Regions from separate parts of the Homo sapiens genome. Here all the other regions are linked to region 2. The links come from fine-mapping of genetic effects on gene expression. A gene starts in region 2. Each other region holds a variant in brackets. All regions are shown on one strand. Distances are between the middles of the regions.

Region 1 (4,138 bases), 110 kb before region 2:
AAAATGAGGATGTAGACACAAAGCAAGACACAAAAAGACAACAAACCACAGAAAAATCTTTTGACCTCAGTTGAATAAGTACATCCAGAGCATTTACAATGACATGTCTCAACCTTTCTTTCAGTATTAGACCCCACTACAGGGTCTTTTTAGACATCTTTTTCCTAATCATCCCCTGATGAAAGTTTAATATCACAGATATACTGTATATCTATTATGTACTATGGCCCTTTGGGGGCCACAAACTATTGTAATAGCTAAGATTTTTCCCTGAAGAACCTATTTTTGCCCTCTTGGAGATAATATCACCCTCTCTAAGAACGCATGATTTACAGTATTAGACCCTCTACAGATTCACAGTACTAGGCTGTCTAGCAAACTTGACTGAAACAATCAGAGGAATGGGGATGCACATAAACTACTCAATGCTAAAACATATCCAAAAGTCTTCTACCAATATTAAAAGTGCCTGCATGTTGCTAAATATCTGAACAAACAGTGAAAAAATCATTTTTAATGTCTCCAAATATCTGGAGGTTGGCATTTTATAGATATAACATCTAGGTAATTAACAGTATTTTGATAAGTTTAATTCAGATATTTGGTATCATGTATAGAGAATGTAGCATTGTGATTATTGTTTAATATAACCATGACAGAATTCACCATTTGTCGTGGTTATATTTCCCATTCTATCAAAAAGACACATGCACCTGTATGTTCACTGCAGCACTTACTTACAATAGCAAAGACATGGAATCAACCTAGATGCCCATCAACAGTGGACTAGATAAAGGAAATGTGGTACGTATACACTGTGGAAATCTACACAGCCATAAAAAAGAATAGAATCATGTCCTTTGCAGCAACATGGATGCAGCTGGAGGCCATTATCCCAAGTGAATTAACACAGGAACAGAAAACCAAATACCACATGTTCTCATTTTTAAGTGGGAGCTAAACATTGGATACTCAAGGACATAAAGATGGCAACAAAGACACTGAGGACTGCTAGATGGGGGAGAGAGGGAGGAAAGCAAGGGCTGAAAAATAACTATGATCAGTACCTGGGTGATGGGATCAGTTGTACCCCAAACCTCAACATCACGCAATACACCCAGGTAACAAACCTATACATGCACCCCCTGAATCTAAAATAAAAGTTGAAGTTACAAAAATAAATAAATAAAATAAAGCTAATTACAGCTACCTAAAAAATGCTGTAGGGCTAAATGAGATCTTGCTGGTAAGCTCCCAAAACAAGTGTTTAATAAGTGTTAATTCCCAATCCACTAACTCCATCAGCGGCAGTAAATATTTTCATTCCCTACGGTTGAAAGGAAGGTATTTTACTTCACAGACAATCCCAAATTAAAGGAACAGAAAGTGCTTTAATCAGAAACCACATATGCTAGTTTTAAGGAGCCTCTTCACCAAAACTGAGAGGGGGCATGATGCTCTCCAAGCCTGTTAAAGATTACATAACCCTGAAACTGTCAGTAAGCAGAGAGCTGAATTCCCCTCTTAGATGTATTCATATGTCCTCTTGCTATGGAAAATAGCAGAAATTCAACAAATTGGTTTAAAAAAATACTACTAAACCACACACACACACACACACACAA[A/CA]AAATCTTAGTTCTCATGAAATCACAGTAAAATGCCTATAAATAAAATTCATAGTAATTTTGTAGCAACTTCAAAAAAATGTCTAATTTAAGAGAAAAATCTTAGAAAAATCCCACTGCCCTTTTTGACATCAGCCAGAAGCTAGGTAACACCTGGATGCTACTTGTTTAGAAATATCAGCCCTTCTCACCCTCGAGAGTTCAGCATCAGGCCAAGAAAGCCAAAAGGTGAAGTTCAGCCAGGGCCCTCGAGATCTTCCTGTTAACCTGGGAGAAAAAAATCAAGAGGCCTCCAGATCAGTGTCAGCTATGAGCCAAAAGAAAATGGTGTTTTCAGGAGCAATTCATTATTGGTCTCAGAACAATTAGAAAATCTTTCCCCTCAGTAATGCTTTCCATGGCTCTGTAGCTTCTGAAAGGGTTTGTTTTGCTCTCTGAGAGCTTTCTTGTCTTGTCTGTTACAGGACAAGAAAGAGAAGGGTTTGCCTCCTCTTCCTCAGTGAGGAAAAGTCTGTATCTGAACAGCTGGATTATGCTGACCTCGGTCATCACCTCCACACTGGAGAGGATGCTGCCAAATGTTTCCGTCATCTGCACTGTGCACTGATGTCATGTGCTAACTCCTCTCAGACTGACTCTGCCACCGCAGTGCTCCACGCCTGTACCCTGCCCAACTGTGTCTTTGGCCTCAGCAGGATGATGTTAGAAAGACGGTGGAGAGGGGTGGTGGACCATACACCGTATTCTGAGGCCAAATAAATAAACAGGCAGGGTTATCTGCCTGTTTAGATGATCTGTGTGGCTGATGCCCTGCTCCATCAGGGATTATGCGGGGTGGTGAATGAGACTAGGATAAACTTTTCTCTCCTTTTATTGTCTAAACAACCTACTGTCTAACAGAAGCAAAAAAATATTCCACCCAGCCAGATATTTCTTTAGATGTCAGATTTAAATAGAGGAAATATATATTACCAAATGCTTAAAATTTACGTAACTGTCATCCTCTTTGGGACAGCACCTTCAGCCACTGCAGCGAATTCACTAATCCCAATGAAGAGAATCTCTAATCCATTCTATTTAGAAATGTGCTTTTATTCAAACAAAACCCCTTAACATATACAGATTATCATGAATCTGGGGGTCCAGCCAAATCATCAAATTTCAGGTTTTCCTCATTCATAAAATGGCCATTCATACATTTTAATTTTACAGCTGTAAGAATGAATGAGGGCATGCTATAAAGTATTTCAATTTACTCTGATATATTTTCCCATATAGTTTCATGCCTACGGTTGGTGGGAAAGTACTCCTCTAAACCCACACATCAAATCTCCTGGGAGACTTCTGCCTCGGGATATCATAGTTCTAGGTCACTGACAGAAGATAGTGTTACATTAGATTTATGATACTTCATCACCCATTCTATCGATCTCCTCCATTAGTATCTCAGTCCTTCCTGGGCCTTTAAAGCAAACAGACATGATTCTTGCTATTACTAAACTACAAAAACATCCCAGATTTTCTTTCTCCAAAAAACTATCCCCCAATATTTTGCCCCAAAGCAAGTATGGCTACTCAAACATAGGAGAGTGACTCCAAAGTTAAGAATCTGACTATGGGAATAGGAAAGAAAAAGAAAAAAAAAATCTTACCATTTAAGATATTTTAATAAAATATCAGATAATAAAAATATACCTTTGTGTTTGAAGAGTCAAGTCACACAAATACGTAAGAGCAAATCAATTGTTTCCAGCTGTAATCAGCGATAATAACCCAAGTACGTGACAGCATGAGAAAGACGATCAGTTTCCTTTTGAGGTTACATGATAAGCAGCAGCTAAGCAGCCTTTTTCTCTAAGAACTCGCCGTCTGACCTCGTGGCAAGAGGAGGCCAGCCCCTCTCACTGGCGCCCTTTATAGCGTTCGCTTTCAGTTCTCCACTCTAGTGAGGACGGGGGCGGGGGAAGCTAAGAGCCTGTTTTCTAAAATGCAGAATACGGTCATCCTCTCTTTCGAACCGGGTTGCGTGGGCACTGAGGAGGGCCAGAGGAGGCAGGGAGGGGGCAGCGAGGCCTAGATTTGTGGATTTTTTTTCTGCACACTGGAAATTCCCAGACCAAAAAGGTACCGACCCGAGTCCCGGACATTCCCCTCGAGGGCCGGCTCCAAGACCTGGACTGGAGCCGCAGGGAGGAATCAGAGGCAACATCTACAAACAAAACTTTTTCCTTAAAGACGTCCTTTTAAAATGTCCTAGTGAATCTCCTGATGGGCATTAGAGTTGCCTTCTCATTAGATTCACCTCATCTTATTTCGCTTTTTCTGTGTGGCCCCTAAACGTGAGGGTGCAGTGGGCGGGTGGAGGGAGTTACCTTTTACCATATAGCTTTTACAATACGGCAATCAAAAAGTAGTATCGCAATCATGTGCCTTCACTGACTAATTAAAGGACAAGAAATCTGTGACATAAATAAAGCAATGGTCCTGTAACATGAAGATCACTTTATTTTCAAG
Region 2 (4,138 bases):
ATTACTTCCATTTGTTGTGCCTAAGTAATGATACTATTGTTTAAATGTTACTAAACTTTTGACTGCAATCCACCAGCTTACAGCCTAACTACCAATATATCCTAAAGTGCCCAAACTGTGATTTTGAAAATCAAAGTATAGTTCAACTAATTCTCCCATAAAATAGGATAATACACCCATTTCCCTAGCTTGATATGAGAATTAAAAGAGAAACCATATGAATAGTACTTAGCCCCGTTCCTGCCACCGGGCACTCAATAAGGCACTTTAGTATAACATAGACGTTCAAACCCTGGCTCCACCAATTAACCATTGTGGTATATTAGGCAAATTATTGATTTCTTTTGGGCTCCCTTTTCTACTCTGTAAAGTGGGGATAATACCTGCCTTATAAATGTAGTTCTACAGAGAAAATGAGATAATGTAAAAAAAAAAACAAAAAAAAAAAGGACTGAGAACATCGCCTGGGTCATACAAAGTGCTCTGTAAATGTTAACTGCTATTAACAGTTAAGTAGCCCTGGTGGGCTTGAGAGGTGTGGTTTAAGAAAAGCCGATCTCCAAAGAGGGCGGGGCCAGAGAAACGGCCAATTTCAAATTTACACCCAGATTAGGACTACTGCAGGAAATAATTATGCCAGATTGCTCTCCTGGAGGATTTCAACGTTTTCCCGTTGTCTAATGGCTCTTAGCATGTGAGGAGTCGTGAGCCCCTCTGAAAAATTGATGAAAGGGGTGTGCTGTCTCAGAAAAGTGCACAGCCTTTGTACACAATTCCAAGGGGTCGACAGAGAGGTCTGAGAACCATCCACCAACTCTTCCCCCAAGAATTTACAGCTCCCAGAAAATGCACTCCTGGTCTAAGCCATGAAGACGGGCCTCGACCCCTGGGCCCTGTCCCCGATTTAGAGGACTGACTGCTGCCAAGCCTCGGAGCTGTAACCAAAACAAAAGCAGCTCGCGTCCGGCGCCCCAAAGAGGTAGGTATCTTCAGGCCACAGAAGCACCCACACAGTCCTGTGCTCTACTGGGCAGCGACCAAACTCGATCCTAGGACCCGTGTGCAAGAACAAGGAGTACAGAACTGCGGGCTCTGGATCATCCCTTAGATTTTATCACGGCCACTGGCCACCTCCGAGGAAGGGTTCAAAGCCAGACTAGGCAGCGGTCTCTGAGGGAAGGTTTTCCTGATGGTTCCAGGAACCAAGAAGAGAGGGAGATGTGTGAAGCGAAAGAGGGAGATCCCAAACATTTCGCTTAGGCACCCATGACTCAAAGTAAATGGTCAAGAAAGGTCATCGCAGCCCGAAATCCACCGCCTCCTCAGCATCGGGAGCGCGGGAGCCAGGGCGCCGGGCCGCGCGAAGGCTTCTGGGGGCTGTAGTCCCCCGCTCGGCCCTCACCGCGACGCCGGAGAGCTGGGAACGGCAGGTGAACTACAACTCCCAGAGGGTAGCCCGCCTCCGCGACGACCACAGATCCGCATCAAAAGAACTGGTCCAGAACTGCACATCTAAACCTAGGTTTTCTGCTCTCCACTATTTAATTCAGCTCCGTGAAGTAAACCTTAGGACTCGGGGTAGGGATCGCCTTACCTTCTCCGGGAGGCAAAGCCGCGTCCACGCGCGCCACCGCCATATTTGCTGCTTGCTAATAATACCAGGCAACCGTCCTCCCGCGGCTCTGTGGAGCTTGTAATCTGAAGGAGGGAGCCGGAAACTATAACTCCCAGGATGCACGGCTCCCAGACGGCCCAATTGGCTGCTTACGCCTAATGATGTGAAGCTGGAGTTAGAATCTGAGGGTAGTGAGCTCAGGGACCCTGGCCCACTCGCTTATTTGACAGATGAGTCAACTGCGTTATTAGATGATCATTTCACTTCCTTGTCCAGGCGTTTGCGAAATTTGACACTTTTACCATCGGGATGATTGTAAGGAAGCTACTTAATGCAGACTGCATTTTACAACTCATTGCTGGAAGTCTCTGTGGGGGCTGCTCCATTCTTTTGATAATTGTGAATAAGTTGAAAGTTTTCAACTCCGCTATAGGAATGACCGATCTTGTTGAGATCATAAAAGTGGATACATTTTATTTGAAATTTTAGTTAAGTAAAAGTAAAGTATGCCGAAATAGAAACTTTTATACAGTATTTTTAAGTGATTGTTTGATTGTTCTTGAATATTTGACAAATCTTTTGACTTACGGGTATAAGTATGAACCAAGAACTTTTCCAGGGAGTATTCAAAATAACTTTAAAATATAATCTCCAGGCCGGGCGCAGTGGTTCACGTCTGTAATCCCAGCACTTTGGGAGGTCAACGCAGGCTGATCACCTGAGGTCGGGAATTCGAGACCCGCCTGGCCAACATGGAGAAACCCCGTCTGTAGTAAAAATACAAAAAAATTAGCCTGGCGTGGCGGCGCATGCCTGTAATCCCAGGTACTCGGGAGGCTGAGGCAGGAGAATCGCTTGAACCCGGGAGGCAGAGGTTGCAGTGAGCCGATATCATGCCACTGCACTCCAGCCTGGGCAACAAGAGCGAAACTATGTCTCAAAAATATATATATTTTATATAGATATTGCATATATTATAATTATATATAAATTATATATTATATATGTTATATATTTAGATATTATATATTATATGTTATATATTTAGATATTATATATTATATATGTTATATATTTAGATATTATATATTATATATGTTATATATTTAGATATATTATATATGTCATATATTTATATATTATATATTATATATGTTATATATTTAGATATTATATATTATATATGTCATATATTTAGATATTATATATTATATATGTTATATATTTAGATATTATATATTATATATGTTATATATTTAGATATATATGTTATATGTTATATATTTATATATTATATATGTTATACATTTATATATTATATATGTTATATATTTATATATTATATATTATATATGTTATATATTTATATATTATATATTATATATGTTATATATTTATATATTATATATTATATATGTTATATATTTATATATTATATATTATATATGTTATATATTTATATATTATATATGTTATATGTTATATATTATATATGTTATATATTTATATATTATATGTGTTATATATGTTATATATTATATATTATATATGTTATATATATTATATATTATATATTATATATGTTATATATTATATATTATATATGTTATAGATTTATATATTATATATTATATATGTTATATATTTATATATTATATATTATATATGTTATATATTTATATATAAATATAGATTATGTATATAAATATATTTTTATATAGTCTCCAAATTCAAGAAATACATTGCCTAGTTGGAAGAAAGCAGGCTCACACTTTTTTCTTTTTTTTTTTTTAGAGACAATTTTTTTTTGCCCAGGCTGGCCTTGAACTCCTGAGCTCAAGTGATCCTTCTGCCTCAGCCCGGCAAAGTGCTGGGATTACAAGCGTGAGCAACGGCGCCGAGCCTTCTTTTGATGCAACTATTATATGCTAAACGGTGTGATTGTGACTGAGCTCACTAATATTTCAGGGAATTGAGAAAGAAATAGAATCTGAAATCTTCAGTGAAGACTTGATGGAGGAAGTAAATGTACCCATCTTTTGATGGGTAGACTGAACAGTTAGTTCTAAAGTAAAAGGTGAAAAGACAGCACAGGCTGCAGGTGGTAACGAAGTTGTGCTCACAGGAAGTGAGAAACTAAACAGAGTATACAAAAAACTTCTGCTTTCTACTACCAGCTCTCCCACTTCCTCTTGCAACCTTTATTCTGAACTCCCCTCTTTCTGAAACAGCAATCTGCAAAGTCTGATCATTTTTGCTTGGGAAAATCTAGTAATTCATGCTTCTAGATTTCCAGGCACTGGATTCTCTGAGCATTCCCCCTTTCCTGGGTTCTCCTATCTCTCTACACTTGTTTTAACTCCTTTCGATTCTTGTTTCCTGCTGCTTTGGTCTAAAGACAAATTTCCTAGTTCTGAAGGGGCAATTAAGACTAGGATTTTTTTCCTTTTAACCAAGAAACTCCTTACCTAGAGAACACAATCTTACTATATGTGTAAGAACAAAGTAAGGCCGGGCGCGGTG
Region 3 (4,138 bases), 37 kb before region 2:
GAGATTACAGTTTTTAAGTATTAGCTAACAATATAGTATATGCAACTTTCTAAAATACCTAAAAACATACCAAATTCTTGATAATATGACCCCTAATTTCTAAAGTATAACAAAAATTCCAAAATTTTACTGTAAAAACTGCAAACAAGAAAGCAGTATGTACAGTTTTTAGTTTCCCTTTGACCCCCCGCCCAAGGTAATTACTGACAGCAACTTGATGCATATCCTTCCAGACTTTTTTCTAGGTCGTATTTTCAAATATACAGGGAAGCTGAGCACACTGGTGTGTGCCTGTAGTCCCAGCTGCTTGGGAGGTTGCAGCAGAAGGATCACTTGAGGAGTTCAAGGCTGTAATGCGCTAGTGCTGTTTTTTTTTTTTACTAAACAGTATTATTTTGGAGATCTTTCCATGTTGGTGAATACCATTACCTTATTTTTTTTAACTATTCCATGGTATTCCACAGTATTATTATTCTATAATTTAACCATTCCTCTATTGTTGGTAACTACAAAACTTTACAAATCAATAATTATTTTTTCATTTTATAGGTCAAATCCTATTATAACAAATTTGGCCAGGTGATGTGGCTCACTTTGGGAGGCTGAGGAGGGAAGACTGCTTGAGCCCAGAAGTTTGAGACCGGCCTGGGCAATATGGCAAGACCCCATTTCTATAAAAAAGAAGAAATGAAAATTTTATTAAAATATTTTCAAGAAATTATCATCAAGAAGTATTTGATGTGATACAATGCTAGTAAAACCAACTGCCTAAACTGTCCCTAAAGTGTGCTATTATAGGATTCAAATACTCTCCTATACAGTTATGAATACTTTTTAGGACATGCATATTGTAGTCATATACCATCTTAATCACAATTCATTCAAATATTCCCAAAAGACAGATCGATAGCTACATGAAATTTCAAATTGGGGTTGTTGTATCTATTGGAAAGCTCTAACAGCCTTCAGTTAAGCCACTTTCCTCCTGCTTTATACTATTTTGTTTTTCTTGTCAAAATTGTCAGAATATTTTTCTTCAGATTAAATAAAATGCAAGAAAATTCACTGTCCTAGTTCACAGTTAGTGGCGAAGAACACAAGCCATACCCTTAACCTTGAACAAGAGTGCTTAATACACCTGAGTACTCTATGATTATCTCAATGAATATAGAATCTGTATTTGATCATATATGAGGTAAATCAGCAGGAGGGAGTTTACCTGGTTCCAAAGGAATCTGAAAGCTTCTTCTTGTACAAATTTTTTAATACGTTCTTCATCTCTTTCTTTTCGTAATCTACAATAATTCAAAACACATTATTGACATAAGGAAGGGTGCTTTGACTCAGACTTCCTGTTACAACTCATAAACACATGCATTGTAAAGAGATTAATAATCTAATAGTTGTCTTTCCCACTTTTAGAATATCTAAATTAAAACCTTATTTTATTTTTATTTTTTTAACCTCAGAATCAAAATGGAACAGTTTTATAAGTGACATCATAAACCTTAATTTTGAACTGTGACTCAAAGTAGAAGCCAAAGGAGATATGACTGAAATACAGGTATTAGTTCTACAAAGTATTTCCAGTAATAAGAAATAAAATAAAATGTTAAATGGCTCTTTGTCTGGCTTCAATTTCTCAGCCAAACAAACCAAAGGAACAGAAAGTGCAAAAAAGGAGTGGCTATCCAAAGCCTCCAAAACAATTAAGGGTCACATTTAAGTACTCGTGATCCAGCTTGAAACACCCTCTGCTAAAGACTAATCCCATCAAACTTCACTATTCTGTTTCCCCAGGTCTCCGACCTACTCCTTGCTAACAAGAGACCTCCCATCCATTATTCCTCATTCATTCATCAAAGTCTGAGGTCTGGGCTCACTGCTGTTCTCTCCATACTTAGGCCTATCACAAACCTAAGGCTCCTCCTTTAGTGATCCATTATCACCCAAACTGTCAAGACCATTTTGTTCCACACCTCTGACCCAATTCTCCACTTTCTCTAGCCCCCCAAGCCTTTCTCCTGTGCCATCTAGAACTCCTGAATTATAATTAGCAAACTCCCTTATATACTCCATCTCTCTCTGAACTTTTCCTTGTCCAAAGCAGACCCACTTCTGAGAGCACTATAGCCCTCTGAAGTGGAAGCTATTTTTCCCTGTCACACATCAGGGTTCAAAAATTGCTTCTCACTATTGTTTTCAAATGATTCTTCATCTCCCTCCTTTAACTCCTGCCATCCTGCTAAATTTCCCAAAATTCGTTGTCAAGTACTGACCTCCCACCATCTGCTCCCATTCAATGAAGTCTCAGCACCAGGCTTTCTCTTTGCCCCATACCTGTCATCGTTTTTGGAGACCTCAACATTCACATGGATGCTCTAACAATAATCCACCCCATGTCAGTCACCCATTCTCATAGTCTCACCCTAGACCAAATCATTTTGACTACACTACTTTCAGAAAT[G/A]GTTCTAAGCACCCAACACCAACCACTACTTCCTATCCTCCCAGTTCACTTGCTGTTGTACCCCACTGCAACAATCTAGACCTTCAGTCCAATGATCCTTCCCCCCTGCCTTCACTTCCCTTTTACCTCATTTAAAATTCCAGCCAGCCTGGGCACAGTGGCTCACACCTGTAATCCCAGCACTTTGGGAGGCCCAGGCAGGAGGATCACCTGAGGTCAGGAGTTTGAGACCAGCCTGGCCTACATGGTGAAACCCTGTCTTTACTAAAAATGCAAAAAAAAAATTAGCTGGGCATGTGGCAGGTGCCTGTAATCCCAGCTACTCGGGAGGCTGAGGCAGGAGGATCACCTGAACCTGGGAGGCAGAGGTTGCAATGAGCTGAGATCGCACCATTGCACTCCAGCCTGGGTGACAAGAGCAAGACTCCATCTCAAAAAAAAATTTTTTTAGATAAAAAATAAAAATAAAATTCCAGTCAGCAAGGTAATTCACACCTGTAATCCCAGAACTTTAGGAGGCTGAGGCAGGAGGACTGCTTGAGGCCAGGAGTTCAAGACCAGATGGGCAACATAGACTTCATCTCTTTAAAAAAATTTTTTTTAATTAGCTGGGCATGGTGGTGCATGCCTATAGTCCCAGCTACTTGGGAGCCTCAAGTGGGAGAATCACTTGAACCCAGGAGTTCAAGATTACAGTGAGCTATGATCACGCCACTACACTCCAGCCTCAGCAAGAGGGCAAGACCCCATCTCAAAAAACATATAAAATCTAAGATCTATCATTATTACTCCCTCTCAAATATCTTCAGCTCTCTTGCCCTTCCCCTGCTCTCTCTACAATATCACCTAGGAAAAAAAATCATTCCTGGCTGAACCAAATTAACCATGCCTGAATCAGACCAGAGCAGCTAAGAATTGCTGATGAAAATCATACAACCTGACCTATTGTTTTGCACTTTTAAGCATTTTCTCACATTGTCCAGCAACCCTCCTCCATTTTCCTCATAAGGTCATGTTTAAGATAACTACCTCACACCTCATACTTCTCTCCTTACACCTCCTTCACCCTCTCCTCATTTTCAGGTGTTGACCACATCTTATACATTATTGAAAAAGAAGCAGCATCAGACAGGACTTTTTCCCATCTCCCACCATCAAACCTACCACCTTACCTGCTCCTGCTCCCATTTCAGGCCACTTCCTCTACTTCGACACTACATTTCTTCCTCTCTTACCTTCTCAAGAACTGCAATCCTGCTCTTCCTCTTTTTTTTTTTTTTTTTTTTTTTTGCTGCACCATCAGTTTTTCCCTCCTTATTTATTCATTCCATCAACACATGAACAAACTCTATATCTCTCATCTACAAAAGAGAATGTTCCTTTAATCTAGATTCTCCTCCAGACACCACTTAACTCTCTTTTCTCTTGTTTTCCTCAAAACAACTCTTTCCAAGAATTGGCTACACTCATCCTTCAAACTCTTTACCTCTCATTCACTATTCAACCCATTCCAAAATGGCCTTCATCCCTCTACACCACTGAAGCTGCTCTTGGGAAGGTCACTGTGCAGTAAAGAGTTAACTCAGCAGGATGGGGATGTTCAAACACTGTACATTGCAAAGATAAGACTGGCCCTTGACTGACTCCTGGGAGATAATCTCCAAGCCCTTG

What was found. PIP is the estimated chance that this variant, and not a neighbour inherited with it, causes the effect.
Region 1: its variant is fine-mapped to the expression of CEP97 in whole blood (GTEx, PIP above 0.99).
Region 3: its variant is fine-mapped to the expression of CEP97 in whole blood (INTERVAL, PIP 0.96).

Annotation. Positions count from the first base shown.
Region 1 is chr3:101,827,366-101,831,503 of GRCh38, reverse strand. NXPE3 (neurexophilin and PC-esterase domain family member 3) reads right to left here. Exons shown (of 8, transcript NM_145037.4): 8 at 3,273-4,138. It also overlaps a transcript of NFKBIZ not described here. Among named protein-coding and RNA genes, the nearest start is that of NFKBIZ, 20 kb to the left of the region's middle. RefSeq lists enhancers at 1,958-2,017, 3,460-3,639, 3,790-3,839. The variant A/CA (reference allele first, on the strand shown) is at 1,626.
Region 2 is chr3:101,722,176-101,726,313 of GRCh38, reverse strand. It overlaps CEP97 (centrosomal protein 97), which reads right to left and starts at 1,700. Exons shown (of 11, transcript NM_024548.4): 1 at 1,595-1,700. The coding sequence starts at 1,637. RefSeq lists enhancers at 222-833, 1,005-1,074, 1,355-1,724, 3,861-3,920.
Region 3 is chr3:101,759,642-101,763,779 of GRCh38, reverse strand. CEP97 (centrosomal protein 97) reads right to left here. Exons shown (of 11, transcript NM_024548.4): 10 at 1,220-1,295. Among named protein-coding and RNA genes, the nearest start is that of NXPE3, 18 kb to the left of the region's middle. The variant G/A (reference allele first, on the strand shown) is at 2,468.